Regions from separate parts of the Homo sapiens genome. Here all the other regions are linked to region 1. Evidence: fine-mapped expression QTL. A gene starts in region 1. Each other region holds a variant in brackets. All regions are shown on one strand. Distances are from middle to middle.

Region 1 (5,143 bases):
TATTGTGGGTGAGCTGAAATTTCAGATAGGATGTTTAGGAAAGGTCTCACTGAACTGACTTTTAAATAAAGACCTGAAGGAAGTGATGGAGCAGTCTATACGGATACCAGGTTGGAGAGTGGTCCAGGTGGCAGTAAATGCGAAAAGTTCTTGAGAACAGCAGGCCACTGTGGTTGAAGAGAGTAATAGGACATTGGGGAGTGGGAGTGCATAATAGGTAGATCAGTGTTCTTTTCAACGACTGGCAATTTTGGCAAAATTTCGTCATGTTGGGGGATATTTTGGTTGTTAACTTGTGTGGGAGGGAGTGCTGAGGAGACCAGGGATACTGCTAAATATCCTACAATGCACAGGACAGCCTATCTCTCAATCCTCCTCCTTCTCCCAAACCCCCAACAAAGAATTATCCAGGCTGACTGTCAATAGTGCCCAGGTTGAGAAATGCTGTTTAAAGTCATAGCGAAGACTGGCTAATTGTGAGTAAATTGGAATAACACTGAATTGTTTTAAGCTCAGTAATTATTTAAGCGTTAAGGATCATGTGGCTGCTTGCTGTGAACAGACTAAAGGGATAAGAGGGTATAAAACATTTAGGAGGGTAATACAATTACCTAGAGAAAAAATATGGTTTGGGCCAGAATGCAGGTAAGGGTGCTAAGTGATAGATGCTGGATGTATTTTGAAGGTTGAGCCAACAGGATTTACTAACACTGGATACATGCCTGTAGGGAGAGGAACCACCTACAAGTAATCTGCTGTGGTTGCTACTGGAGTTGTTTCTTCTCAAAAGGGAGCCGGGGAAGTGGTGGAAAGCTAAACAAATTTGGAAAGGAGGAAAGAGTACCCAATATGGATATTAGGATTATTATGCATCTGTTACATAAATATCTGTAATTATGCATCTGTTATATAAATATCTTAAGAAAATAAGAAAGGACACTGTTGGACCAGTGAATGACTAAGGGCACAATTATTCTATGGACTGTTTCTTTAAAAATACTTTTTTGTTTGTTTTTAGAAACGTCTTCTCATGCCATCTTTCATTTTGGTGACAGTCTGAAAGATGTAGGGAGCCCCAATTCCTTATTCTATCAAAGTCATTAAAGGGCTCTAATTTTCCTTTCAGTATTTGTATCCCAACCAATTATTGGTGGTTACTATGTAGAATGCTGACGTATTAATAATCTTTGTCTAAGCATTTGTTTGGTTTAGTCTAAAATATAAGCTTACTATGAGTCTTTTTTTTCTTTCCTTCGAGACTGAGTTTCCCTCTTGCTGCCCAGGCTGGGGTGCAGTGGCGCGCTCTCTGCTCACTGCAATCTCTGCTTCCTGGGTTCAAGCGCTTCTCCTACCTCAGCCTGCCGAGTAGCTGGGATTACAGGCGTCCGCCACCACGCCTGGCTAATTTTTTGTATTTTTAGTAGAGATAGGGTTTCACCATGTTGGCCAGGCTGGTCTCAAACTCCTGACCTCAGATGATCCACCCGCCTCGGCCTCCCAACGTGCTGGGAGTACAGGCGTGAGCCACCGCACCTGGCCACTATGAGTCTTTATGTATTAGAAAACTGCTTAATAAAGTCCTCACCTTATTGTCATAATCTTATAACCAATAACCTTATAATCTAACAACAAGGGTTATTTCCATTTCACAGACAAAAAAACCTGAAGTTTGTTAATTACGGTGTTAAATTATCCTACGATTAATGGCAGAAATAGGTCCTGAACCAATATGCCTTTGAGAACTTAAACGCGGTGAGTTACATACAGGCCCTCCTAACTGGAGTCTTCGCTAGTACCAATAGTTAGTTGCTCGGCGAGAGCTCGGTAAGGACTAGCCATTTGGAAGCTCGTAGTACTCAGGTTGTGGTACAGGAGATCTAACACTCCTACACAAATGCATGTCGTGCTTATTTCGTACCAAACTGGTCTGGCGGCGGTTCTTCGTCCAGACGCTGGCGGGCCAGGGTGGAGGTAGTAACACAGCTCCCATTCCCCATGTAGCCGCGCCCTCTCCTTCCCCTGGGCGTCTCCGGGGCGTGGACAGGCCGCTGAAAGGAACCGGCTGCGGCCTGTGTGAGGCTCCGCGGGCCGCTGCACTGCGAGGCCGACGCAGCTGGAGAGAAGTTAGGCAGGTCCTAGGGAGGGCAGGCTCGAGTGCTGGGCCCGCCTCCCCGCGGGACTGTAGGCCCGGGGGCTCCGCCTCGTCGCAGCGGCAGGTAGGAGGCGGTGCGCGCGGCCCGGCGACGGGGGATCCTGAGGCCCGGTCAGTCTCTTGCTCTGGGGTCTTGGGTGGCGGGCGGCACCTCCGCTTGCAGTGCCGGAGCCGCGGCCCCGCTCGGAAAAGGGCTGCCGTCGGAGTTAGATGCCGGGGACTCCGGGCCGTCCCAGCCCCCGGGCCTCAGCTCCGGCCCGGGCAGAGTCGCTGCTTCCGCGTTTGGTTCTTTTTTCCCCGCTGGGAGTGAGAACAAGGCGTCCCCTTCTACTCACGTTTGCCAAAAGCGGGTCCGACGTGTTAGCGGAAAAGTGGGTGGAGTTTCTCTTTTTGCCGGTGCAGAGAGAACTTGTGGCGGGAAGTTGGGGCGCGGGGTTGGCCGTAGGTCCCCGGCGTGCTAAGGGCGGACGGACCAGGCGGCTGGGCCGCGCTGCTTCTCGTTACCTTCCGCAGGGTCAGGGGCCGCGGCGGGGTTGGAGGTCAGCCCAGGCACATGTTAACCCCTGGGTACCAGTTTGCTCGGAAACTCGTGTTGAGGACTCATCTTAGCCCTGGGAAGGTACCCAGAAGCCGAAGGGACACCCCTGACAGGGACGGGCCCTGAGAGGCTGTCGTTTCCCTTGGCAGATGAACTCGGGACTCGCCCCCAGGATGTACATTTCGTAGAGTCTCCCTTACCGCCTCAAGCCCTGAGGCCGCTGCCTTGCCCCAAAGTGTATTTATCTTTTTTATAATTATTTAGAATTTATTCCTTAATCAGTAGTTTACACTTTGGAGACTTTAAGTTTTAAATCAGTAAATCTGTAATAGGCACCAGCCTATATAATGTACTGGTCAAGGGAAACCTCCACAAAAACTTTTCCTGCTTTATGATACAATCAATGCTCTAGGCATAGTTCACCATCCAAATTCCCAGCCCTTGTGTGCCTATCAGGAGGAAGGTGAATATTGTTAAAGATACACGCAGCGACTCTACCTGGGACAATACTGCTAAGTAAAAAAGCAGTTAAGTGAAGGAGGAAAAACCCGTTAAAGGAAAAACAGATACTTTCTTTTATGGAAGCTAGGAAGATTATATTAAGAAAACTTTACATTTACGTATATACGTTTTTAATTAACTTTCATGTCAGAAACTCTTAATAGTTTTAAATACTTAGAGGATCATGGTTACCTTCACATTTAAATTATTTTCAGGCATGTATGCTGGCATATGTATTTTCCCCTAAGAAATTTTCTCTTTTAACTCAGAATTTCCCATTGAGAAATTTGCTAACCTATGTACAATTATAATTAGTTGATTAAAGTTGCATGGCTGTGCTGTGGAGATTATGCTTTTGTTGTTGGTGGCACAGTTGTAATCTCTAAGGCAGGACTGTTTTCACTGTGATAAACTGAGAAAGAGGGTAAGAAGACAAAATGCTGAGAATATTTTGGCAGCCCGAGAACTGATGGCCTAGTATTCTGCTAAGTTACATATCCGTGAAAATCCCTGGCTCATTTAACAAATGTTTACTGAGTACCTAGTATCACGGTGGTGAGATGTCCATTGCCATTGTCTGTGTCTTCCCAATCCAATCCTGTGTTCTTTTCTAGTGACTGAAGACCTTCTCACTTTTAACATTTTACATTCTCAGTGACAGCAATATTTCCATGTACATGAAATTTATTTTCTTTCTTCATTGGAAATTGTTAATTTCGTGTTTCTTAAGGTGTGTCCTGCACTGTTAATATGTGCTATAGAACCCCGAAATGAATTTTGGATGAAATTTGGTTAGTTTGCTTCTGTTTTTTTAAAATATCTATACCTCTTAGATCTCAGTATTGTAATGTATGTGAATTTCTAATTTGAATATAATGTGTGGGCTTTTCCAAACTGAATTAACTTTAGAATCCTAATTTCTGGGAACCTGGGAAAGTTCCCTATTGAAGACATTTTGGGAAGTGTATTTTAAGAGTTTTGTTTGTTTGTTTTTCTTTTTACCCATTTATCTCACCCCTTCTGCCAACAGAAGTGATGCCACCAAAAAGAAATGAAAAATACAAACTTCCTATTCCATTTCCAGAAGGCAAGGTTCTGGATGATATGGAAGGCAATCAGTGGGTACTGGGCAAGAAGATTGGCTCTGGAGGATTTGGATTGATATATTTAGGTAAAGTAAAACCTTAAATTAACAATTATTCTTATATCTGTGACTGTAACCGTGATTACTTAGTGGTATTTTAAGAATGGAAATATGGAATTCATATGTGTACTTTATTAAAATTCATGATTGTACTCGATTAAGTAATAATAGAGTACAGTGTCTAGGTTCAAGACATCACTGACCCACTCCTTGTTGTCCATGTTTTTCTGAGTAAATCTTAGAAGTCTTTTTAGAGCATAATTATACAATCTGCCAGACAAAATGCTAACTTTCTTTTTTTTTGAGAGCTTGTTTTCTTAGAAACATGCTTTTTTCAGATGAGAAACCACAACTGTATAGATAAAAACACTTTCTGTTTGTGAATCTTAATCAATATTTAGGCAATACAAGAGTCTAGTCATTTCTTAATTGGGCTCTACTGGAGAATTCATAGATAAAACTTAAGGCATCTATTCTGTGAAATGAATTAACTTCTCTCTCGTGCATCTAGAGTGGTCCCTAGGGATGTGCCATTCTTGGGATAATTGAAAAAATAAACACTCAAAATTATTTTCTGTGATCTGTGGTACAGGTAAGGAACCATGGGCTGGATAGGCCTTTACATTGCATTTAAGCATTTAAAAATTACACTGAACTTTAATGGATCATTGAGTTGGAATGAGGAGGGGATATCCATTAAAAGATTGATTAATAAAATAAGGAAAATAGTAGTGATTTTTAAAAATATACCCTCAAGGATAAATTCTCCTAAATGTACTCACTTGAGACTTGAGATCACATCTATTTC
Region 2 (5,143 bases), 64 kb after region 1:
ATCCTTCCGTGACATCTATTTGCTTACAAAAATTGTGCCCCACCTTCTTAGCATGGTTTCCAAGGCTCTCTGGAAACTGATGCAAACCTTTCTTTCTTTCTTTCTTTTTTTTTCCTGGCTTGTGTTGTGTTTCCACCAACTTCTCCGCCCTCAACACACACTGACACATGCTCTGGTTGCCCTCTTGTATGTTTCTTCTTCCCTGTCTCCATCTGTGGAAGTCTTAGAAATTATTCAGTACCCAACTTAAATGTTGCTTCTTTCTCTGAGTCTCCCTGTTAGAAATAGCCTTTCCTTGCTGTAAAATTTCATAGACTTTTATGCTTTTGTCAGAGTATATGTTACCTCTAGGCCTGTAGATGTGCTTATGCCATCTCCCTTTCTGCTATGTGAGGCACATGGAAAATAACTCAGAACTTCTGGTCAGATTGATTTAGGTTCAAATCTCAGCTTTGCCAGTTACTAGAATTTATTTGTTTTACATAGATCACCTACCCTTACTCATCCTTTTTTCTCATTCTCAAAAGATCTTAAAATAACTTCTTAGGGTCATGAGGATTAAATGATTTGACTTATGTAAAGTACTTAATGCTCTTACAGCAAGTATTTGATAAGTATGCATTCATTTTTCTTTTTCTTTTTTGAAGTGTATATTTCCTGTTTATTATGCTTGGCACTCAGGTATCTGTTAAGCTTGGCACTCAGGTATCTGTTAAAAAAATTTAGTTCAGTTTGTCTAATTATTATCAATTAAATCAATTAAAATTTATTCAAACCAACTGTGCAGAAGGCCTTAGAGTAGGTGCTGTTATGGATACAAAAATGTATATATGACATTATCCCAGTCCCTCAACCCCTAGGAGCCTACAGCCTTTAACTGTGGAGCCAAAGCATAAATTTAAAAAAGCTAAATAACTTTGTACATTGTTAAAATAGCAGATTCATGTGGACAAGGTGAAAACCCAGTAAATTGCCTTGTGCTTAAAAGGATCTGTAGTAGTCCATTCCCATACTGCTATGAAAAAAAAAAAAATACCCAAAACTGGGTAATTTATAAAGAAAAGAGGTTTAATTGACTCACAGTTCTGCATGGCTGGGGAGGCCCCAGGTAACTGCTATCATGGCAGAAGGGGAAGCAAATATGTCCTTCTTCACATGCTGGCAAGAGAGAAGTGCTGAGGGAAAGGGTGAAAAGCCCCTTATAAAACCATCAGATCTCAGGAGAATTCACTCACTATCACAAGAACAGCATGCGGGAACCGCCCCCATGATCTAATCACTTCCCAGGGGTCCTTCCCTCAACACATGGGAATTACAATTCAGATTACAATTCAAGATGAGATTTTGGGTGGAGACACAGCCAAACCATTTCAGGTTCTACATATAAAGGCCATTCTCTTATAACTCACCAGAGAGAGGATTTCACAGGGTTCTTTCTTTCTGTATGTAAATATATATATATATTTGGAGATGGGGTCTTACTCTGTTGCCCACAAAATCAGAGGGTTCTTTTTAATCATTAGCTTTACCCATCCATCTGGAAAAATAAAGCGGTGTAAAAGCCTACAAGCATCAGGAAGCAAAGAAGACTGGAAGTACAGGCTTAACTAAGTGTAGAACTTGGGAATATGGCATACCTGTGTACAAATCTGGCCAAGTGAAATAGGAAGGTGATCTGGCCAGGTGAAATATGAAGGTGATTTTCTAGACGGACTGCTTAGTATATGAAACTTGTGTTTTTCATGATCATACTCAAAGGCTAATTTGCTTTTCATCTTCATTCCATTCTTTAATCAAGGCTGTGATTTATTGACCCCTCTGTCATAAATTGGGGAGAACATGTATATACATGTATGTAGCAACTTTAAAGGCTTTTCTTCAAAACAGAAAGCAATCATTTATTTTAATAGGGCATAATATATTCCTATTTTTTCAATAACATACCATAATGCAAAAATCTTAACAATAAATCAAATGCATATTTACGAAAATAACTATATGACAAAAAGGGAATGAAGCATGGAATGAAGCAGCAGCATGTTTATGTTCACAAGAATCATTCATATCTGTTAAAAAATATATGTAGCCTCACAGATGCTACTGTGTTTTGATACAAATTTGTGCTTTGTATTATTATACAGTACTTTTTTGTTTCTCCTCAATTTCCTTACCTTGTTTGCCAAGAATGGGGTTCTTGGGGAGGCTAATACTGAGATAGAATTAGGAGGGCAAGGGCTTTTTGGAGGCAGGAAATCTAATGCCCATGTAAGATAAAAGGGGAGGAAGCAGGATTGAACAGGGAAGGCTTCCAGAGCGGGATGTTGATCTGACACTTGTGAAAGGAAAGGGAACCAGAGGCAGAATTGAGGAGGGAGAGCTTCAGACATGATGCAGATCTGACAAAATCTCAGTGCCCACTCCCGACATTGGGGAGCTCCAGAGCAAAGCTTGCCTATTAGGAGAGACCCCAGCTATGTAGAAATAGTCACACCCTCTCCATGATCAACTGCCCAGGAAGAGTGTGGCCTTGGTGCACACGCTGTGGTAGGACCCAGTGGTCCTGCCCCTAGTGGATGTCGACTTATTGCATTCCTTACAAGTAAAGGGCCGCTTCTTTCTTGATGGGATTACACCTCAGTGGCTGCAACACTACATTTTCAATCACAAAGTATCAAAATGGAAAGCCTGTAAAAGCGTTAGTTAAAATTAGTTGTTTATTGGAGGAGTCGAGAAGTTCACTAAAATAACAAAACCCTTGGACAGGCTGGCCTTAGTGAGTGTTGAGTGGCTTACGTTGTTTGGGAATATATTTTTCATCTGTTAAATGTTGATAATGACATCCATCTTCCCTATCTACCTCACAAAGTTATAAAAAAAAGTAATGTCTAAGAAAGGCAAGAAAA[T/C]CATGTGAGAGTCAATACAGTGTAATAGAAAAATCTCTGTGTCAAGGTGAAGGGAAGCAGGTAAGGCTGTCCCTCGTACTCATGGAGAAGGGAAATGATGGCTACATTCAGAAAAAGTGCATAAAAGGACAATCATTTGAAATGCATTAAGGAGTCTGGGCGTGGCAGCTCACGCCTGTAACCCACCATTTTGGGAAGCTGAAGCAGGAGGATTGCTTGAGCCCAGGAGTTCAAGACCAGCCCAGGCAAAAAAGTGAGACCCCATCTCTATTTTAAAAATATAAAAATAAATGCATAGGGAGTAACTATTTATATATTCCTGTGGCTAGTCTTACTACAACGCAAATAATCACACCTACCTGATCCTGGTATAAATCTTGAGTTCCACAGACAGGCCTGTTTAAAACTAGGGGTATTACACATATTTACAATTAAAATGAAAAATATTAGCCGTTTGTTTTTGATTTCACAGAAAAAAAAAGGTAATATATAAAAAACTTTGAACCAAAACAAGTTTTATTTTAGATTATAGATTGGCAACTTTTTCTGTAAAGAGCCAGAAAGCAAATATTTTAGGCTTTTATGAGCTCTGTGGGTCACATATGGTTCTCTGTTACATTTTCTTCTCTTTTTCTTTCCCTTTACAATTCTATAAAATGTAAAAATTATTCTTAGCTTTAGGGTGTATAAAAATAGGACCTAGACTGTGACCCCTACTATAGATTTAGTTCTGCACAAACTCATTTTTGACTTCAACATAATTTCAGAAGTTGACAGAACCCTTAATTCTATATTGTATTTTTGAAAAAAGAGAATGGAATTTGGAAGTCATATCAGCCAGGATTCGAATCCTGCTTTCATCCTTTACAAGCTCTGTGACTTGGGCAAGTTATTTAACTGCTGGGATGCTCAGCTTTCTTATATGTAAAATAAAACCAGTGCTACCAGGCTGGATGTGTTTGTCTAGATTTAATGAAATAATTTGAGAAAGGTACTTTGCCCAGTGATTATTAGATAATAGAACCTCAAAAGATATTACTTCATTTCTTCCCTTCCTTTACTTATTTGATGGTATTTTCTAGCCTTCCCTCCCCCACATCTCCTTTGTTCTAGCAAAATTCTAGACTGTCTTTCTCTACTGAGTTATCTTAGTAGAACTCTCAGTGTGACCTAATTGTAGTCTGTAGGGGTGGATAGAAAACTTCTCTTCCACGCTTCTCTGAAGGGTCACTGGAATGAGCTGACAGTATAGTAACAGGAAAAAAAAAAAAGGCCTACAAATTTATTATGTACATGGACACGGGAGTCCTGAAAATATGAGACTCAAAGAAGGTCCAGATGGTTGAGGCTTAAATACCCTCTTCATATGGAAGAGGGAAGTGGGGAAGTATATGCAATTTTAGAAGCAAATGACTTTTAGGGGAAGTGAATGAGCCCAAACAACAGACTACTGGCCTCGGACAAAGTTGTTCTGAGCTCTGGGGGACATTGCAGCACATTGTGGGAAGCTGAAGGGTGGAACTTCATTATGAACACAAGTTGTCTTAATATGTAGATAAAGTCTTTTAGGTAATCTCTTGGAACTGCCCTCAGAAGAATAAAAGCCTGTCTGGGTGTGGTTATGACTTTTAGTCTTTTCTTTGGTGACTAATCTTTCCTGGTTATTTGATGAGATTCCTGGGGAAGGAGTTTTAAGACAATTGCATTTCTAGGCCAGGCACAGTGGCTCACGCCTGTAATCCCAGCACTTTGGGAGGCCAAGGGAGGCAGATCATGAGGTCAGGAGTTCCAGACTAGCCTGGCCAACATGGTGAAACCCCGTCTCTACTAAAAATACAAAAATTAGCTGGGCGTGGTGGCACACGGCTGTAATCCCAGCTACTCAGGAGGCTGCGGCAGGAGACTCACATGAACCCGGGAGGCGGAGGTTGCAGTGAGCTGAGACTGTGCCACTGCACCACTCCTACCTGGGCAACAGGAGCGAAACTCCGTCTCAAAAAAAAAAAAAAAAAAGACAGTTGCGTTTCTTCTGGAAGAACTTCCCTTAATCAGATGATGGAACTTCAGAGAGAGCCCCTCCTGCTGCTTCTGGAAAGAAAGAGGACCATAGAGACTTTCATGCGGGTCCGTGTGAAGAGACCACCAAACAGGCTTTGTGTGAGCAATATGGCTGTTTATTTCACCTGGGTGCAGGTGGGCTGAGTCCAAAAAGAGAGTCAGCGAAGGGAGATAGGGGTGGG
Region 3 (5,143 bases), 23 kb before region 1:
TTCTTAATCCCAATTTATACGTATGCTTGGACTAAATATTTATTGTCTCCAAGATACTGCAGACAACAAATTAGCCAAAAATACTATGACCGTTTATCTGGGTTTATACTACCATGAAATAAAAATATATCTAATCACTCAGTGAATCCCTTCCATATAGACATCTGTTAATATTAATTCTATCTTTTCTTTGTAATAGAACTTTCCCTCTTTTCCCCACCCCACCCCCAAATCAGTGGATTGAATTTTCAGCATTTTCTTTATTTTTCTGTTATGCAAAGGACTCAGCCAGTAGCATCCCCCATACCTTTCCACATTATCACAATTGGCTACCGAAACCTACATCTTCATTCCATTTTATATAGTATTAACTTTGTAAGCCTGGAAAATATGATTGAAAGAAATTGTTCAAGTTCCAATGTCCCTGACTTTTAAACACTGTTTCTTCCTTTTGTCTCAACCATCAAAAGTGTTAATACTTCATACCCTGTTTAGGTTGTAAAATGTCCACTTGAAACCCTTAATCAGTCAGAACGTTGGTAAATTATACCTTCATGCTATCCATATTGAGTACCCATTACTCCTGGACATAGCACATTAACTGACTCATTAGCTATTTCAAACCATATGGACTTGGGTTTGGGTGGGTCATTTTGATAATATCCTGAGGTGAGTTTCCTAATTATTGCAATTATGTGATCTCAATCATGAGGTCAGGCTCACAAAATAGTGTCAGTGCCTTTAGAATGGGTGTCACTGCACCCAGACAATGACTGAGATGAGCAACATGCTCTTTGGTTGTTATAAGTCCCTTGATACTAAAGAAAGTAATTACTTGAAAAGTTCTGTGAAACCGCCAGGAACAGCCTGTGAATTGAGTGAGCATGGAATGCTATAATGCTTGACAGTCATGGATACATTGCCTAGAGTTCACAGTGGGAAAATGTGAATGCCACAGTGCTGATGCTACGTAGACATTATGTTTCTAATGTAAATTTTGTATAGTGTTTTAAGCAACAAGGCAGATTTTGTAAAAGTTGAGGGGAGTAGGAAAAGAGCAAATGTAGGAAAAGAGTATGTTGTCATTGAGAAATTCTGTGATGGTGTCACAAAACGAATATGAGAGGTAAGAAATTCATATACTGTGCTGCCCACGATGGCTCACGCCTGCAACCCCAGCACTTTGGGAGGCCGAGGTGGGCAGATCACTTGAGCAGAGGAGTTTGAGACCAGCCCAGGCAACATGGCTAAACTTCATCTCTATAAAAATACAAAAATTAGCTAAGCATGGTGGCCCTTGCCTGTAGTCCCAGCTACTCAGGAGGCTGAGACTGAGGGATTGCTTGAACCCAGGAGGCAGAGGTTGCAGTGAGCCAAGATCACACCACTGCACTTCTGCCTGGGCAACAGAGCAAGACCCTGACTCAAAAAAGAAAAAAATATGAGGAAGTTTACGTACTGGAAGGTAGGATAGATATCAAGAGATATTTTTAAATAATTACAGAGGTTGTTTTACTATGGTAAAATATACATAACATAAAAGTTAGCATTTTAACCATTTCAAAAGAGTATAGTTTTGTGGCATTATGCACATTCACATTGTTCTGCAACATCACCACCAACCATCTCGAGACCTTTTTCATCTTCCCAGACTGAAACTCTGTAGCCATTAAAGAATAACTCCACATATCCCTTCCTCACATACTCTGGCAACTACCAACCTCCTTTCTGTGTGTATGAATTTGACTACTTTAGGCACGTCAAATAAGTTGAATCATACCGTATCTGTCCTTTTGTGACTGGCTTATGTCACTTAGCATGTCTTCAATGTTCATCCCTGTTGTAGTACGTATCAGAATTTTCTTCCAAGACTGAGTGATATTCCATTGTGTGTATATGTGTGTGTTTGTATGTGTGCATATAACAAAATTTCTATATACATACACACTACATTTTGTTTCTCCATTCAATTGTCAATGGACCCTTTGGTTGCTTCTTGGCTTTTGTGAGTAATGTTGCTATGAACATCCGTATATATGTATATATATATCTGTACAAATCTCTGCCTTCAAATCTGAAAGGTTATCTTTGAAGGAAAAAAATAGTAAATGTATTTTTTGAAAGCCTACCCTCTGCCTAAAAATTGCTAACAAATTAAAATAAAATGTCTGCAATTAAAATGATCATCAATTTGAAAGTGAAATCAAGGAAATCCCCAAAGCTTACCATTTCCTTTGATGTTTCTGTCTTCGTCTTTAGATAGCAGTCAAAGATACACATTAGAAATCAAAGATTTCTGTTTCTAGGCCTTTAAGATATGTATGAAAAAATTAGTATAATCAGAGCTGCTAAGATGGGTCAGCTGGAAACAGCACCTGAACATCATTAAAGAATCAATATAGAAGCTTTGGAGAGGAGTGGTCATGCTCACTACCAAACTATCTAAATATAGAGATTTACTAAAAAAAGGAAAGAAGTTTGTAATCACACAATTGAGTATTAATGATGAACAATAACTAGTTGGTAAGA[AT/A]TTTTTTTTTTTTTTTTTGAGACGGAGTCTCACTCTGTAGCCCAGGCTGGAGTGCAGTGACGCTGTCTCAGCTCATGGCTCACTGCCAGCTCCGCCTCCCGGGTTCACGTCATTCTCCTGTCTCAGCCTCCCTCCCAAGTAGCTGGGACTACAGGCGCCGGCCACCAAATCCTGTCTCTACTAAAAGTACAAAAAATATTTTTGACTCCCAGGAAAAGTACAAAGATGAGGAGAGAGGAGAGCAGTCCTGAAATAAACATGTATTTAGGCTGAAATTATAGTTTCTGTGAATCGGCCTTAGGTTTCACAACCACAATTTACACTTGTAAATAGGTTGAGGGTTCAGTGGCAAATATTTCCAATTTAGAGGTAGATATGACAGGATTAGAAAATAAATAAATAAGGAATTAATAGAAGTTTTTTTGGGGGGGTGCTATTACATTAAAATAATTAAACTACTTAAGTGAGTAAAACCTCAATTAGTAGTGGAACTCTAAATTCAGTTAATTTGTAATAGTTAACAGCAGTTCATTGAGAAGAAACTCCCACTGGCTTTAACAATACTGTTTATTTTTGGTGGAAAAGAGAATTGTGGCCTTCCTGATATTTTATTTTGGAATTGTTTGTCCTAAAATTGGGCCTATCCAACTTTATTTCTAGCCAGCCTATCCACAGATCCATTTAGAGCAAATCTGTTACCTCCCATGTAAGGGCCAAAACCTCTTAAGACATTTTATTTCAAAGTTTTGATGCTATCATAAAGAATCGACTCCTACAATACTAAGCTCTTAAGATGTCACATCATATTTAAGTAATAATGCATGCTGAAGATGCTAAATTTAATTGGTTAGTGTGAGAGCAATTTTATGAGAAGAATCCATCATTTTGGGGGCTAAACATTATCAAAAGAAATTCAAATATAAAGGAAAAAACCTTTACCAGAAACCAAATGTAAATATGGATGACAGATATTGCTTTTACACATGGGGGTTAATTTGTAGAATAAAGAGAGAATGGCTATGTGATAAGGCTTCTCTTGTGGGCAAAGTACGCTTCATATGGTCATTCTTTAGTTGAGCCATCCTTGTCCTTAATCCCATGTTGCACTGAACACCATATGCAGTTTAGTAGAGTGGCTAATAGCACAGATTCTATAGTTAAACTTCCTAGGTTCAAATCCTGTCTCTGCTTATTCCAAGATATGTGACCTTAGGCAGATAACTAAACTGCTCAGATCCTCAGGCTGATTCACTGTAAAATAGGCACAAGAAAAGGCATTGCTCATATTTTTTTTTTTTTTAACTATTAGTTAATATCTATAAAGCAATTAGAACTGGGCCTGCCATATACTGATAGCTCATTATGTGGTAAGCCATTACTATTGCTATGACTGAGAAAGTCGTTTCCTTCTTCTTTTTGGCTTCTTAAGAAGAATTCAAAGGCCAATTTTGGAGAAATCCCTAAGTAAACAGCCAGACAAAGGAAGAGAATCATAGGCTAGTTTTCATTTTAATCAAAATGTCTGCTATATTTTAATCATTTTAAGTTAAATGTCTTTTATCTACCTTATGTTTGTTGCTCAAGGTTATTTTATAAATTTTGCTCATTCATAAGCCACAAATTATCTTATTGTCTGACTTAGTTCTGACAGAGAACCAAGAAATGTGGCCTGAACTTATTTTTCAGAAATGGAATGAATCCCCAAGATGGCTTAAGGATGCCCTTCTGTTTTGGAATGCTTTCTCTTGGTGTATATCAAGGTTGGTTCAGTTTACCAGAGAAAAGATGCCAGGTGGGTGGCCTTTATAGAAAAGGTAAGCTTCTGCTAAGGACACTCAAAACCTTTTGCTTGACCTTTGCAGATTACCGACTCCTGTTTAGCCTTTCTCAGTAGTGCTTCCTTTATCTAACTTTTGCTCCCATACTCCTAGTTTCTTTTCATCTAATTTATAAGGTGTACAAAGCTATTCATCAATATATAATGGTCTCTGTGATTTCAGTACAGATGACTACTCCTTATGCATTAAATAATGTTCTATAAAACTATGTGTTAATGAAATGAAATGTGACTCTACTGGGGGATTTTAATACTTCAACTATTCCAAGTCTTCCCTCTTTCAATGTACTCTGTCTCACATTGTACTCTGTCTCACTTGTTCCATTGCATAATGGAGATGTACAAAGTGAAAATTGCCTAGCACATTGTCCCTTCTAAGAGAATAATAGAAAATCTTTGAATTGCTGAGCTTATTGGAATGTCTGTTACCTAAGAACAAGTGTTGCCAGTGAGACTAATTGTGTGTGTGTGCGCGCGCACACACACATGTGCACATGTGTGAGAAAGAGAAAGTGAGGGAATGAGAGAGGGAGACAATGCAGTATCTAGTTTATGTAAATAATTTCTATAGCATGAGAACATCCTATATGTTTAACTAAGAAAAGTTAATATGACTCCTGACAACTACATATACACAATTACTCTTTCTATGAATATGCAATTATGAAAAATAAGCAGGTTCCCAAATAATGTGGAATTCTTAGATGAAGCGTGTCAGTATTGGCACGTGTAGCATTTTAAAAGAGTATGGTTCTGTTTTATTTTTAGAATGTATT
Region 4 (5,143 bases), 71 kb before region 1:
TATGAAGTGGGCCATCAAAGCAGCAGTAAATTTTAGGATTTTGTGGAAGATATGATGAAACTATGATTAAAATTGCAAAGAAGCACATCATTTTCAAGAGCTAAAATTTAACGATAAAGAAAGGACAACTTCCTGAGAGGTTTTCACTTCTTGAAAGATATATATATATATCCCCAAAAGTCTCAGAGGAACCTCTGCGTTCAAAGCAGCTGAGGCCAATATCTAGTGGAGAAAAAAAAATTAGTTGAAAATTGTTCTTCTTTAAGAAAGAGCCCATTTTAGTTCTATGAGGGCTTATATGAGGGAGAAACACTTAAACACCTGAAACTGTAAGATGAGAAGGAGGTAGAGAAGCCAGATGCCAAAAACAAACTGTAAGGTGGAAGGTGAGGAGGTAGACATGTTCCAGAAAATGAGAGTGACATGTGCAAAGGCTCTGAGGAAGAAGTTAGCTTAGTGTTTGTTGCAGATTAAAGAATGCTGGGAAAGATAACAGAAACAAGTTAATATTTTATTCTAAGCAAAATGGAAAGCCATATAAGGTTTTTATATTTATTTAAAGCTATTGTTTCTGCTGTGAAGAAAATGGATCGAAAGAAAAACTGATAAAGCTTTAATCATAAAGAAATATTTTATAATATCTTTCTTTCCAAAATTGTCAGATCAAGTGTGAACTTGACAATTAAACAAGATTTAATTGATCACAAAAGTCCAACAGATTAAAATATTGGTAATTCTAAAACAAACTAACATAAAATACTCACACTTTTAAAGTATATATGGGATTTTTTTATAAATTGTCTACGTAGTAAGATGTATAGCAAAATCCCACTAAATTCAAAAAGGCAGACAGGCCATATTCTCTTATTACAGTGCAAAGAACAAAAAACTAAATATAAAATTATAAATCTAGTCTCATAAAAATAGGAAAAAAATTCTTCTAAAAAATTAGCTGAAAGTATAGACTCTTTAGAATTCAGTGAAAATTTGAACATATAAACTGTGAGATAAAGGCAAAGCCACTTCAGAGAAAAATTCATAGGAATATGTACTTCAATTATTAAATAGAAAACATTTAAAGATTAAGGAAACAGCCAACTGTAAAACTAGAAAACATACATCAAAGGAAATCAAAAAGTAGGCAGTAAAAAGAATTAATGAAGATAAAAGCAGAAAATAATAAACTGCAAAAACATACTCAAGATAAAACAGCCAACCCTTACTTGATGAATAATGCCATCAAACAATATAAAAGCTATTTATATATACACACAGAAACTTAAAAATTACATAATAATAATGAAAGAATTGATCATCTCATAGGTTTGAGAGATCAGGTAGGCTATACAAATTGATAAAGATAATTTAAACAATATAAGTTTTAAGATATGTTAAACTTTATACAGCATATCATAAATTATAGAGATTACATGTTATTTATTATGTTTCATGAATTAGCTATAAAATTATTTCATCATATTTTAGACCATAGACAACCCTTAACATTTTTAAAGTAAAATTTGTGAAAACGATGTTCTATAATCACAATGAAAAAAAATATACTGTTACCAAGAAATTGATAACAAAGATACATTTAATACCAAGGTATTCATATCAGTGACTGAGATGAAACACACCCCAAATCAACCATGCTCCAAACACATAAAAATGCTAAACAAAATCAGACTGACAGTAAATTTCTTAGAAGCAACAGTAAGTGCCAAAAAACAAGGATATACTCTATAGACTTTTTATATTAGTTTTCTATTGCTGCCTTAACAAATTACCACAAACTTTGTGGTTTCAAATAACACAAATGTATTATCTTGAAATTTTTGGCTCTGACCCCCTTCCTCCATCTCTATTTTTTAAATTTCAATTTTATTTTAGATTTGGGGTGGGGTACACGTGCATGTTTGTTACAAGGGGATATTATATGATGCTAGGTTTGGTCTTCTACTGATCCCGTCACCCAGACTGCAAACATAGCACCCAGTAGGAAGTTTTTCAGGCCTTGTACTCCTCCCTCCTTCCTTTCGGAGTCCCTACCACCTGTCCCCAACCATGTACCCAAGATTCTAAGATTTGGCTCCTACTTATAAGTGAGAACATGCCATATTTGGTTTTCTCTCTCTCTTTTTTTTTTTTACTTTTATTTTTGGTTCAGTTGGGTACATGTGCAGATTTGTTACATGGGTAAGTTGCATGTCACTGGGGTTTGATATGCAAATGATTTCTTCACCCAGGGAGTGAGCATAGTATCTGATAGGTATTTTTTGACCCTCACCCTCCTCTCACC[C/T]TCCACCTTCAGGTAGACTCCAGTGTCTGTTGTTCCCGTTTGTGTCCACATGCAATCAACGTTTAGCTCCCACTTATAAGTGAGAGCATGTGGTATTTGGTTTTCTGTTTCTGTGATAAGTCACTTAGGATAATGGCCTCCAGCTGCATTCATATTGCTGCAAAGGACATTATTTCATTCTTTCGTGGCTGTGTAGTATTCCATGGTGTATATGTACCACATTTCTTTATTCAGTCCACTGTTCAGCATCTAGGCTGATTCTATATCTTCACTATTGTGAATAGTGTTGTGATGAACATACAAGTGCATGTGCCTTTTGGTAGAATGATTTACATTCCTTTGAGCATATATCCAGTAATGGAATTGCTGGGTCAAGTGGTAGTTCTGTTTTAAGTTCTTTGAGAAATCTCAAAACTACTTTCCACAGCGGCAGAACTAATTTACATTCCCACCAGCAGAGTATAAGTATTCCCTTTGCTCTGTAACCTCGCAATCATCTGAATGTCTGTTATTTCCTGACTTTTTAAATAATAGCCATTCTGCAGGTCAAGCATTTTTTCGTATGCTTGTTAGCCACTTGTATGTCTTCTTTTGAGAAGTATCTCTTCATGCCAGTTACTCACTTTTTAATAGGGTTGTTTGTTTTTTGCTTATAAATTTAAGTTCCTTATAGATTTCTTATTGTTTCTGGATATTAGATCTTTGTCGCATTCATAATTTGCAAATATATTCTTCCCTACTGTAGGTTGTCTATTTACTTTGTTGAAAATTTCCTTTGCTGTGCAGAAGCTCTTTAGTTTAATTAGGTCCCACTTGTCTACTTTTGTTTTCATTGCAATTGCTTTTGGAGAATTTGTCATGAAATATTTGCCAAGACCTATGTCCACAATGGTATGTGCTAGATTGTCTTCCAAAGTTTTTATAGTTTCAGGTCTTATATTTAAATTTTTAATTCCTCTTGAGTTGATTTTTGTATATGGTGAAAGAAAGGGAATCAGTTTCAATCTTCTGTACATGGCTAGCCAGTTTTCCCAGTACTGTTTATTGAATAGAGAGAGAGTCCTTTCCCTATTGTCAACTTTGTCAAAGATCAGATGGTTTTAGGAGTGTGGCTTTATCTCTTGGTTCTCTAACCTGCTCCATTGGTCTATATGTCTGTTTTTGTACCAATATCTGCTGTTTTGGTTACTGTAGTCTTGTAGTATAATTTGAAGTCAGGTAGTGTGATGCCTCTGGCTTTGTTCTTTTAATTTAGGATTGCTTTGGCTATTTAGGATTTTGTTTGTTTGTTTCCAAATGAATTATAGAATCATTTTCTTCTAATTCTGTGAAAAATAACATTGGCAGTTTGATAGGAATAGTATTAAATCTATAAATTGCTTTGGGTAGTATGGCCATTTTAACAATATTGATTCTTGCTATCCATAAGCATGGAATATTGTTTCATTTATTTGTGTAGTCCCTGAGTTCCTTCAGCAGTGTTTTGTAGTTATCATTGTAGAGATCTTTCATATCCCTGGTTAGCTGTATTCCTGGGTATTTTTTTTCTTTTTGTGGCTTTTGTGAATGAGATTGTGTTTTAGATTTGGCTTGCAGGTTGGACATTGTTGGTATACAGAAATGCTACCGATTTTTGTACATTAATTCTGTGTCCTGAAATTTTACTGAAGTTGTTTATGTCCTAGGAGACTTTGAACAGAGTCTATGACGTTTTCTACATATAGACTGATATCATCTGCAAAGAGAGATCGTTTGACTTCCACTCTTCCTATTTGAATGCCTTTTATTTCTTTTTCTTGCCTGATGGCTCTGTTTAGGGCTTCCAGTACGATGTTGAATAGGAATGGTGACAATGGGCATTCTTGTCTTGTTCTGGTTTTCAGGTGGAATGATTCCAGCTTCTGCTCGTTCAGTATGTTGCTGGCTGTAGGTTTGTCAGAGATGGCTCTTATCATTTTGAGTCATGTCCCTTCAATGACTAGTTTGTTGAGGGTATTTAACATGAAGGGTGTTGAATTTTATCTAAAGCCCTTTCTGCATCTATTGAGATGATCGTGTGACTTTTGTTTTTATTTCTGCTTATGTGATGAATCACATGTATTGATTTGCATATGCTGAACTAAGCTTAAGTCATAGAAATAAAGACTATTTGATCATAGTGAATTAGCTTTTTTTTCTACTTTAAGAGTATTGTTTAATAATGTATGTTACAAAAAAAGGACTTAATGGGTGAAAAAATAATTCATTAACATACTTGGTGCTGATTCCAAAGCATAAAGAAAAATACCACTCAGTATGAAGTTCGGGTGATTCTTAAAAAATTGAACATATCCAAAAATTTGTTAATAAATAACCAGGTTACAGATGGACATAGTCAGAAACAATTAGAAAAAAATTATTACAGTAATTCCTACAAATTCACAGTGTGGGACATAATGCTTTACTTTCGATTTGCCTCATAGCTACATTCTAGATCTCAGCCATGTCCACTTCTAAGCCTTGATAACAGAAGACCTAAAAAGCCAGTCACTTGCTTAATAAACATTTTATGAAATTTAAGTCATTGACATCATAAAATTAAGGCAAGCAGAACAATCTTTATGAAATTTCAAACATGCTGCCAACTTACCATCCCGATCTAAATCATATTGATTGACATATTGGGTGCCACATCACTAGAGACATGGATCATGTGATCCCTCAGGCCAAGTATCTTTTTTTTTTTATATATTGGCTTACTTGATTTGTTTCCTTCCTTCCTTCCTTCTTTCTTTCTTTCTTCCTTTTTCTTTTTCAGCACATGCAGGTTTGTTTCATAGGTATACATGTGTCATGGTGGTTTGC
Region 5 (5,143 bases), 29 kb after region 1:
TCCCTCTTTATTCCTGATTGTTTTTCTGGTTCTAAGTCTGCTGTATTAGGCTTCTATAGAGGGGCAGAACTAATAGGATTATATATATATATATATTTATATTTATATTTATATTTATATTTATATAAAAGGGAATTTATAAAGGAGTATTAAACTCACATGATCACAAGGTCCCACAATAGGCCATCTGCAAACTGAGGAGCAAGGAAACCAGTCTGAGTCCCAAAGCTGAAGAACTTGAAGTTGGATGTTCGAGGGCAGGAAGCATCCAGCATGGGAGAATGATGTAGGCTGGGAGGCTAAGACAGTCTAATCTTTTCACATTCTTCTGCCTGCTTTTATCCTAGCCACCTTGGCAGCTGATTAGATTGGGCCCACCCAGATTAAGGGTGGACCTGCCTTTCCCAGCCCACGACTCAAATGCTAATCTCCTTTGGCAACACCCTCACAGACAGGTCCCGGATAAATACTTTCTATCCTTCAATCCAATCAAGGTGACATTCAGTATTAACCATCACATCTGCTTTGTTTGATATTAGTATAGCTACTGTAGCTTTCTTTTGATTTGTGTTAGCATGATAGATCTTTCTTTGTCCCTTTACTTTTAATTTATCTGCGTTTTTATATTTAAAGTGGGTTTCCTATAGACATCATATAGTTGTCTTATTTTTTCAATCTACTCTGTCACTATCTGTCTTTTAATTGGTGTATTTAGATCATTAACATTTAAAGTGATTGTTAGTATATTTGCATTATTATCTGCTGTATTTGTAACTGTTTTCTATTTGTTATGCTTGTTCTTTCTTGGTTTTTTATCTGTTTTTTTTGCCTTCTCTGTTTTTAATTGAGCATTTTGTATGACTCCGTTTTCTCTCCTTTCTTGGAGTATCAATTCTTCTTTAGAAATTTTTAGTGGTTGATTTAGAGTTTGCAGGGCAACATTTACAACTAGTCAAAGTTTACTTTCAAATAACACTATACTACTTCACAATTAGTGCAGGTACCTTATAATTATTCTCTCCTGTCTCTTGCTGTAATTCATTTCACTTATTCATAAGCTATAATAACTCAACACATGGTTATTTTGAATAAACTTTTTGCCAATTAAAATAAAAAAATAAGCTTTTATTTTACCTTCATTTATTTCCTCTCTGGCACGGTTCATTTCTTTTGCAGATGTGAGTAATAACAGGTATATTATTTTCCTTCACTCTCAAGAGCTTTTTAAAAACATTTCTTGCAAGGTGGGTCTACTGTTGATGTGCTGGTAAGGTGTGGGAGAATATGAGACCTTTTATAATCTTACGACTAAATCTGCTTTTTATTTTTATTATTTAGTTTCTTTCCTATTTTATTTTAAGTTCAAGTGGTACATGGCAGGTTTGTTACATGGGTAAATTGTGCGTCATGGGAGTTTGGTATACGGATAATTTTGTCACCTAGGTAATCAGCATATTAGGTAGTTTTTCAGTGCTCACCCTTCTCCTACCCTATACCCTTAAGTAGGCGCCGTTGTCTTTTGTTCCCTTCTTTGTGTCCATGTGTACTCAGTGTTTTCCTTCTGCTTATAAGTGAGGACATGCAGTATCTAGTTTTCTATTCCTGTGTTAATTTGCTTAGGACAATGGCCTCCAGCTCCATCCATGTTGCGGCAAAGGACACGATCTGATTCTTTTTTATGGCTGTGTAGTATTCCGTAGTGTATATGTACCACACTTTCTTTATATAGTTCACCATTGATGGACATCTAGGTTGATCTTTGCTATTGTGAATGGTGCTGCAATGAACATTCATGTGCATGGGTCTTTTTGGTAAAGCAATTTATATTCTTTTGGGTATATACTCAACAATGGGATTGCTGGGTTGAATAGTATTTCTATTTTAAGTTCTTCGAGAGTCTTTCAACTGTTTTCCACAATGGCTGAACTGATTTGCATTCCCACCAGCAGTGTATAAATGTTCCCTTATCTCTGAAACCTCGCCAACATCTATTGTTTTTTGACTTTTTAATAATAGTCATCCTGACTGGTACAAGATGGTATCTTGTGTTTTTGATTTGGATTTACCTAATGATAAGTATAAACCTATTTTTTTGGTGGGGGGCCTATGCCCCAGGATGTGACCTTCACCAGTATTTCTCAGCTTCCTGTACCCTACTTAGGTGAGATAGGAAAGCTAGAAGAGGCTGGAGTGGTTATTTTTCTTCTCCCATGTTGATTAGGTTCTGGCAAAGTAGTTTCCCTTCCCCTGCTGGAAACAGGAGATTTTTCTGATATTCACTGTGAGAACATGGAGGGCTTATAGTAAAACTCTGCCCCAATAAGATGTGATTCTCTGTATTCACTTGTCTTTCCAGTTTTTGGGCACTGATTTGCCTTGTAACCTCAGTTCTCTGATG[G/C]ATTAAAGAAAAGCTGTTGATTTTCAGATTGTTCAGTTTTTTTCTTTTTTCTCCCCCTTAAGAAGACAGGAGTAAGGACCTCCAAGCTCTTAATATGTTGAGTGGAAACCTCTCTTTACTTTTTAAGAGCCTTCTAATAGCTACTGTCTTCTTTTTTTTTTTTTTTTTTGGTCTATATTTTATAGCTGTTTTCAGTGGGAGAGCTACAGTTGAGTGTTCCTACTCCATCTTATCTGTACAGATGCTCCTTACAGTGGGGTTATGTCCTCATAAGTCCATCATAAATTGAAATTATTGTAAGTCAGTAAGGCATTTAATACATCTAGCCTACTAAACATCATAGTTTACCCTAGCCTACCTTAAATGTGCTCAGAACACTTTTATTAGCCTACAATTGGGCAAAATCATCTAACACAAAGCCTATTTTCTAATAAAGTGTTGAGTATCTCTTGTAAGAGTATCATACCTCATATCACTAGCTTGAGAAAAGTTCAAAATTTAAAAATTCGAAGTATGATTTCTACTGAATGCACAGTGCTTTTTCACCATTGTAAAGTAGAAAAACCCTGTTGACCATTGTAAGTTGAGGACTGTCTACATTTTTTTGAAATACTGATTTGTTTCCTTTAATGATTATATTTCTATTTAGGTTTTTTATTTTTTGAATTATTTTGGTAAATTATATTTTTTTCTAGGAAATTGTCATTTTTTCTAAGTTTTTAAGTTTACAGATGATAGTGTTTATCATTAGTTTTTTTCAAAATCTCATGCACATCTATGGTTTTGCTCTCTTTCCAGTACTCGCACAATTTTGTAAGAGGATTGTTACCTTTTTAAAGAGAAATCTTGAATATCACCTATTTTGTTTGTTTTTATACTTTAAAATTTTATTTTGTAACTTTTAATTTTTAAATTTTAAAGAGCTTGCAAAAAAAGAATGTTTCCATATTCTCTACTCGACTGCCCTAAATGGTGATATATTATAAAATAGCACATAGTACATTACATAGTTATCAACACCAGAAAATTAGCATTGATACAATACTATTAACCTATTTATATACTTCATTAAAATTTTGCCAGTTCTCCTACTAATGTCCTTTTTTGGTTCAAAATCCAAGATGACACAATATGTGTAGTTATCATTGTCTCTGTAACTCCCTTTGGGAAAATTCTTCAATCTTTTTTTGTCTTTTATGAGCTTAGCGCTCTTTTTTTTCTCCTCTAAATTATTTATTGAAATATTTTCTTTATAGGCTTTAAATACCTTAGTGTAAGCAGAACTTGAAATACAAAGGACAAACATTGTGTAGAACCTAGAACACCCTATCAGTTCATTGAATCATGATTTCCTCCACACAAGTCCTCGGATTCTTAATTTGTTGAATTGATCCTAGGCCTTTGTTGTCTCAGGATATTTTTCCTAAATCCTAATTGATTGACCAGTCTTATCTGAAGAATTCCTGCCCCCTACCCACAATCTGTGTAGGTGAGTTATTCTTCTGTCTCTTAGAAAAAGTTAGACTAGGCTGCAAAGAACCTATACCTCTAAGCGTCTCCTCCATTTTTTTTTTAACCTTCTTTAAATATATTTTTGGGTGTTTAAATGGGATTAGAAGTGTCATCTGGCCCCCAAAAGTGACCACTCTTAAACTAAAGATATTTCCATAATAATCAAAGCATAGTAATTTTCTGGGAGACTTCTCACTTCATCACATCCTTCCATACCCTCTCTGGCAGTTCTCTTGAACTTATCCTAGTGATTCTTCTTCCTATTGAAAAATAATGTGCGTACTGCCACAATTTACTGTAGAGTTCTGTTGTTAGTGGGATAAGGCCAACAATACCATGTAGAATTCTGTTGCTCTTCCTTCTTCATGCATGGAAATTTGTCTAAGTATTGTTAACTCCCTAGATGTCTCTATACTTCCAGCAAAGAGATAGCTGGCAACATAGTTTTGTCATTTCTTGGACAGAACTCTTTTTCTTCTCAGGCCAATGTGATAGCTTCTTAGCTTGCCCTCTTTCAGAATCCTTGTCTTTGGTAGCCCGTAAGGCTGCAGAATTTTTAAAACTGTGTTTGTATATACAGTTCAGTAGTGTTAAGTATATTCACATTGTTGTGCAGCAGATCTCCAGAATGTTCCCATTTTGCAGTACTGAAACTCTATATTCATTAAACAGTAATTCTCCATTTTCCTCTTTTCCCAGCACCTGGAAACCAGCATTCTACTTTTTTGTTTCTATGAATTTAACTACTCTAGATACCTCATAAATGTAGAATCATATAGTATTTGTCTTTTTGTGTGTGGTGTGGCTTATTTTACTTAGCCTAATGTCCTCAAGGTTCATTTATGTTGTAGCATGTGACATGATTTCCTTCTTTTTAAAGGTTGATTAATGTTCCATTCCAAGTATATGCCACCTTTTGTTTAATTATCTGTCCATGGCCATTTGGGTTGCTTCTACTTTTGGCTAATTGTCTGTAATGCTGCTATGAGCATGGGTGTGCATGTATTTCTTCAGGATCTTACTTTTAATTATTTTCAATACATACCCAGAAATGGGATTGCTAGATCATATGGTAATTTTATTTATTTTTTTGAGGAGCCGCCATACCATTTTTTATAGTGATGGGGTAATTTTATGATCCCATCAACGGTGCACAAGAGTTCCAATTTCTGTGCATCCTTGCCAGCATCTGTTATTTTCAAAATTTAAAACAAATTTTGTTTGTTTTTATAG
Region 6 (5,143 bases), 250 kb after region 1:
AAATAGATTAAAACTGTGAGAAATTCTCAAAAAATTAAATGACCATAATATTCTCATCTCAGAATAAGAGAAGTGATTTGGCTTAAGCTGTGGAAAATAAGTCCTTTAGAATCCACATTTCCAAGGAGTTGCAGTTGGCTTTGCATGTGGTGGCTACTCCTTTATAAAGCATACTTCTGTGTTCAAAGTCTGTAGCTAGGGGAAAGCAAATTTATCCTTCAGCTAAACAAAAGTTCAATGATAAGAAAGAAAGTACAGGAAATTGTGAGTATTTTTTTTTCTCTTCATGCTTAGGGAATGCATGTGCATTTCTGCAGCAAAGGAGAAAATTAAAGGAAAACATTCTCCTCAAGAATCTTTCTTTGAATTTCATATGTAGACTCAGAAAACAGTATTGTTAGTGCTATTTATTCTGAGTAATACTTTTCAGTCAGATGTAAGCTGTTTTTCAATGTTTTGTTTTGGGGAAGGGTTTACTAATTTAACTAAAACTTTAAAAAGCAAATATAATAATTACAGTGAAATATGTGCTTCTGAACTAAATTCTCTGTTTGGTCAAATATCATTTGGATGGAATTTTTTCCCAGTCTCCATTTTCAAAATCAGTATAATTTGTGAAAACCTCTTTTGCTTATCAATATAACTAGACAACTAAAGTTCTAATCTGTCTAACACCTTAGCATTTTAATTTGTATTCATCTCTCTGTTGCTGATATATTGATATTCTTGTTTAATTAGTGGTATGAATGATAGAATCTGAGGTCTCAAATTATTTGCCAAAGTCACTGGGTTAACTCCTTAAAGCTGATCAGATGGGCTCTCTTTCTAACATCCTATTACAGGAGGTTTTTGTAAACTAGTGGTATAAACGATTATTTTTAGTTAAGAGAAGCCCCAGGAAAGATTAAAAAAATGGAATAAAGACATTCCAGTTCTTGATCTTATCTTTTTCTCATCTCAACCTTTAGAGAGTCTTGCTGGAAGAACACAAGGAAAGGCAGGAAGGCTTCTTACAGATCTTTGAGACCTCCTTCCACTCAAATCCCAGGGGAGCTAGAACGCTATACCTCTGTGGTTCAAAAAGTCTTTGGACCAGAAAAGGGGCCTTTATCTGCCAACATTTCAAACATATTCAATCAAATATTGATCTAGAAAATCAGTTACTTTTTCCTCTAGCAAAGAGATTAAATTAGTACTACCTACTGAAGGCCTACACATGGTCCTCGGGAAGATAATGATGGTACCCTAGGCTATTCCTAGGATCAAAAGTTTATATGGACACCAAACTGATTTAACGTTTTCTGTAATGCATGGAGACAAAAGGGTGAAAGATCTGCTTGCCAATAGTAATGTGCTGGAGATTATCTCATGTGGCGAGTCCTTGCATCAAGAAGCCAGGTTATGGTTTTCAAATCCATCTCATCTCTGAAAATAAAAGAAATGGAACGTGGCCTGTTTCACCTCACTGAAAGGTTTTCATCACCAGAAATATCTGATGCCTCTTATTCAAGTTGACAGTAGCACATGTTCCTCTGACTCATAAACAGTCCTTCTCTCTATTGTGTCCTGTTTCCAAGAAGTACTTAATGTTATGTTATTAAAGAACAGGAGGTTTGTCTGCCTATTCGTCCTCAAATAGGAGGCTATCAAAAATGACAAAAAGCTTTCCAAATTTTAAAATCAGTTGGAATTTCATGCTTAATTTATGAAATAATGTGTTCAAGTTGGTGTATGATATAAAAGGTAAACTTTAGCCTCCACATACTACACAATAGGGACAGCTCAATTTTAATTAGAAATTTTAGGTTGCAGAGAAGCTCATCTCTTCCAAAGTACCTATGATTTATTTATCAGTCACCTTTGTACTCTAAAAAAAATGAGTTTTTTGAGTTGTCTTTGCGTTTACCTTTACCTAATCAAGGAAACAGAAAAGATTACATATCTTACAAATTATACACACTCAAATCAAAATTTCATGAGTTAGTAAAAGTAAGAAAATAAAACATTACCCTTTTTCCTTGGAACCTTACATATGGCAACAATGGCATCAGCATAACGAACCTATTAATTAGAAGCTAATGTTGTAGAGACTAGGCATTTGAAGAGTCATACTTAGTAAAAAATAATAATCTTTCAGGTTATGGGACTTTAGTTGTTTGACACAAAGTTTAGATTCTTAGGTAAGATGGGGCATATTTTGGAAATGTGGCTTTGGGTTTTTATGGCACTGGCCATAATACGTTTATTATTAAGAAGATTATTTCAAACATTGTCACCATGTGGTCACTCAATTGTTTTGGCTGAATTGACTGCTAATGCAAGCAAATCAGTTCTCTGAATTCACTGTTGTTTTCAGCAGCATGGCAATGCAGTAAAAGAATTATGGGAATTCTTGAGCAATTACTCTATGCTAGCCACTTTGCTAAGTGATGAGAATATAGTGATGACTAAAGATACACATGGGCCCTCCTCTTAAATAACCAAATAATAAACACAATATTACTTCTGTAATAAGTGCTGTGAAAAGGAGGTACAGACATCTGCTGAACACCTGGTTTGTGTAGGGCATTTTGTTTATTTCACAAATTAATATAGAATCTTGTATGAAGGTTGAAAAGATTAATTGCAAGTTTAAGAACTAAAGAGCTCTGATTTCACAGGATCCTTGCATGGAAAAAAATGTCAGAAGAGTTTAGTTTATGGCAAGCTTAGTAGAAGACTATGGTGTGATATGGCTTTCAAAATAACTCATGTAGCTTTAGTCCCATTAACAAAGCCCAGGGTATAGA[C/CT]TAAGGAAGGAAAAGGCATTTGTGTAATTGACACCAGTCACATGTTGTGGGTTCCATTTCCAGGAAGTACAAATTAAAGTGGATATTAAAAATCTGGTGATGTCCACAGGAGCTGAATCCACATGATAAAAGGTCCAGAAATCATGTCTATAAGAAACATTTGAATAAAATGGAAAGCTTGGCACAGAGAAAACAAGGAGTGTTATGATAGTGTCTTTAAATAATTCATATGTTGTCATGGAAGATAAATTAGATAATGTATAGCCATACGTGACAGATCTTAGACCAACCAAAGGGAGGAAGTTACAAGTTTAGATTTAACATTGATGATGAACGTTTCAACAATAAAAGCTAGTTGAAAATGCAATTAATCACTTTGTAAGGCAGATTCCTTGGCATTAGAAATATTCAAATAGTGGCTTGAATAAAGTGTTTTTAAGAAATGCTATGGAAAGTTTTCTTACATTTATTGATAGATTAGACCAAATATTTTCTAAGGTTTCTTTCAACTCTAAATTTTTATGATTTCATGTTATAGTTATTAGAAAAGCTCATCTTCTAGAATGCACAAATGTAAAATTTTCATTCCTTCTGCAGAAATTTAGTGAAGGTCTGTAATTGTGGTAAAATATGGATAAATAACACATAATCTCTGACCTCAAGGTACTTATCATCTTGTGGAGATAACAAGTGCTTGAAAATAAGGAAATGATTCAGGATGGAATAAGTGCTGTGATGCAGTTAGATGGAAAGATCTGAGAAGACATGATAGTATTCAATTCTGAAGGAGGTGGTAATGAAGGAGAAGCAGACAAGATTAACAGAGAAGCCAGGAGTTAATTCTTCCTGCTTTTGTTTCTTTTTAGAGGATGAATAAAAAATAAGAAAGGTCAATAACCCAAAGCAAAGAGCACATTACATTACGTCTCCCAGGTTACTTCCATTCACTATGAGAAATATTTATGCAATATTAGAAAAGTAGGGTTCTGTATCTGTCCGGAATTAAGTCCTATACTCAAAACAGAGGATAGAGTTATGGAGCATAGGCTCTGCTACAGAGCCCTATACATAAGCTATAGACTTATATACACATTTTGGGCATAAAATCCTTTATAAATATATAAATAAAATTGAATATATCCTAACACCACTATGTGGGTTTTCACCAAAAGTATTTTATTTATTTTTAATGAAGATCTCTACCTGAAGATGCATAATTTCCTTTCTCTATAATGGATTTAAAAAACCCAGCTTTTAAAAATTTAATTCACCATACAATTCACCCACTTAATGTACAAGGTTAATTGTTTTTAGTATACACACAGATACCACAGCTAACTTTAGAACATTCTTATCACCTCAAACTGCATCCCTCTAGATATGACCCCAAATCCCTCTTAGCTTCCTCATCCCCAAGAAACCATTAATGTTTTCAAGGTCCATCTGTGTTGTAGCATGTGTCAATGCATCATTACTTTTTATGGCCAAATAATATTTCATTGTATAGACATACTACATTTGTTTATTCATGAATTGGTGGGAACCTTTTGACCATTATAAATAATGCTGCTATAAACACTTGTATACAAGCTTTAGTATGGATATATGTTTTATTTATCTTGGGTATTTAACTAGGAGTGGAATTCCTGTATTTTATGGTAACTCAATGTTTAACTGAGAAACTGCTAGACTGTTTTCCAAAGTGGATCTACAATTTAACATCCCACCAGCAATTTTTCTATATCTTAGCCAACACTTGTTATTATCTGACTTTTTGATTCTAGTCATCCTACTAAGGGTGATGTGGTATCTCATTGTGGTTTCAATTTGCACTTCCCCAGTGACTAATAATGACATCTTTTTATGCGCTTATTGGCTATTTGTATAACTCCTTCAGAGAAATCAAAATTCAGATTGCTTGTCCATTTTTAATTTGGTTGTTTATCTTTTTATTACTGAGTTGTAAGAGTTCTTTGTATATTCTAGTTACAAGCTTCTTATCAGATATATGATTTGTAAATATGTTCCTCCATTCTATGGGTGGTCTTTTCACCTTTTTGTAGTGTCCTTTGAAGAACTAAAGTTTTTAATTTTGATGAAGTCCAAAATTATTTGCTTGCACAATAATAGCAAAAATAGATTGGACTTCATCAAAATTTTTGTTATATCGAAGAATCCACTGCCAAATCTGAAGTCATTAAGATTTACATCTATGTTTTCTTTTAATAGTTTTGTAGTTTTAGCTCTTACATTTAGGTCTTTGACCCATTTGTATTGATGTTTGTATACAGTGTGAGGTAAGGTTCCACCCTTATTCTTTTGCATGTGGTCATTTGCCCCAGCAACATTTGTCA

Alleles and levels. Positions count from the first base shown, and alleles are read on the strand shown. Sizes are in standard deviations (SD) of each study's normalised expression. Not every link is listed here.
As copies of A replace AT in region 3, the expression in monocytes after LPS of the gene that starts at base 2,201 in region 1 goes up (large effect, 0.80 SD a copy in Quach 2016).

Evidence for each region. PIP is the estimated chance that this variant, and not a neighbour inherited with it, causes the effect.
Region 2: its variant is the best candidate, but not a certain one, in a credible set for the expression of VRK2 in whole blood (INTERVAL, PIP 0.67).
Region 3: its variant is the best candidate, but not a certain one, in a credible set for the expression of VRK2 in monocytes after LPS (Quach 2016, PIP 0.65).
Region 4: its variant is the best candidate, but not a certain one, in a credible set for the expression of VRK2 in whole blood (INTERVAL, PIP 0.59).
Region 5: its variant is the best candidate, but not a certain one, in a credible set for the expression of VRK2 in whole blood (TOPMed, PIP 0.63).
Region 6: its variant is the best candidate, but not a certain one, in a credible set for the expression of VRK2 in whole blood (INTERVAL, PIP 0.50).

Annotation. Positions count from the first base shown.
Region 1 is chr2:58,044,606-58,049,748 of GRCh38, forward strand. It overlaps VRK2 (VRK serine/threonine kinase 2), which reads left to right and starts at 2,201. Exons shown (of 13, transcript NM_006296.7): 1 at 2,201-2,263; 2 at 4,222-4,362. The coding sequence starts at 4,227. It overlaps LOC107984043 (formin-2-like), which reads right to left and starts at 2,628. Exons shown (of 3, transcript NR_171623.1): 1 at 1,919-2,628. RefSeq lists enhancers at 1,469-2,024, 1,914-2,033, 2,025-2,580 and a silencer at 2,184-2,453.
Region 2 is chr2:58,108,415-58,113,557 of GRCh38, forward strand. All of the region lies in intron 7 of VRK2 (VRK serine/threonine kinase 2), which reads left to right. Among named protein-coding and RNA genes, the nearest start is that of VRK2, 64 kb to the left of the region's middle. RefSeq lists a silencer at 1,060-1,354 and an enhancer at 4,193-4,777. The variant T/C (reference allele first, on the strand shown) is at 2,904.
Region 3 is chr2:58,021,449-58,026,591 of GRCh38, forward strand. It overlaps a transcript of VRK2 not described here. Among named protein-coding and RNA genes, the nearest start is that of VRK2, 23 kb to the right of the region's middle. The variant AT/A (reference allele first, on the strand shown) is at 2,530.
Region 4 is chr2:57,973,623-57,978,765 of GRCh38, forward strand. It overlaps a transcript of VRK2 not described here. Among named protein-coding and RNA genes, the nearest start is that of VRK2, 71 kb to the right of the region's middle. The variant C/T (reference allele first, on the strand shown) is at 2,300.
Region 5 is chr2:58,073,558-58,078,700 of GRCh38, forward strand. The region is part of intron 2 of VRK2 (VRK serine/threonine kinase 2); the gene reads left to right. Among named protein-coding and RNA genes, the nearest start is that of VRK2, 29 kb to the left of the region's middle. The variant G/C (reference allele first, on the strand shown) is at 2,399.
Region 6 is chr2:58,296,932-58,302,074 of GRCh38, forward strand. No RefSeq gene overlaps it. Among named protein-coding and RNA genes, the nearest start is that of LINC01795, 24 kb to the left of the region's middle. The variant C/CT (reference allele first, on the strand shown) is at 2,790.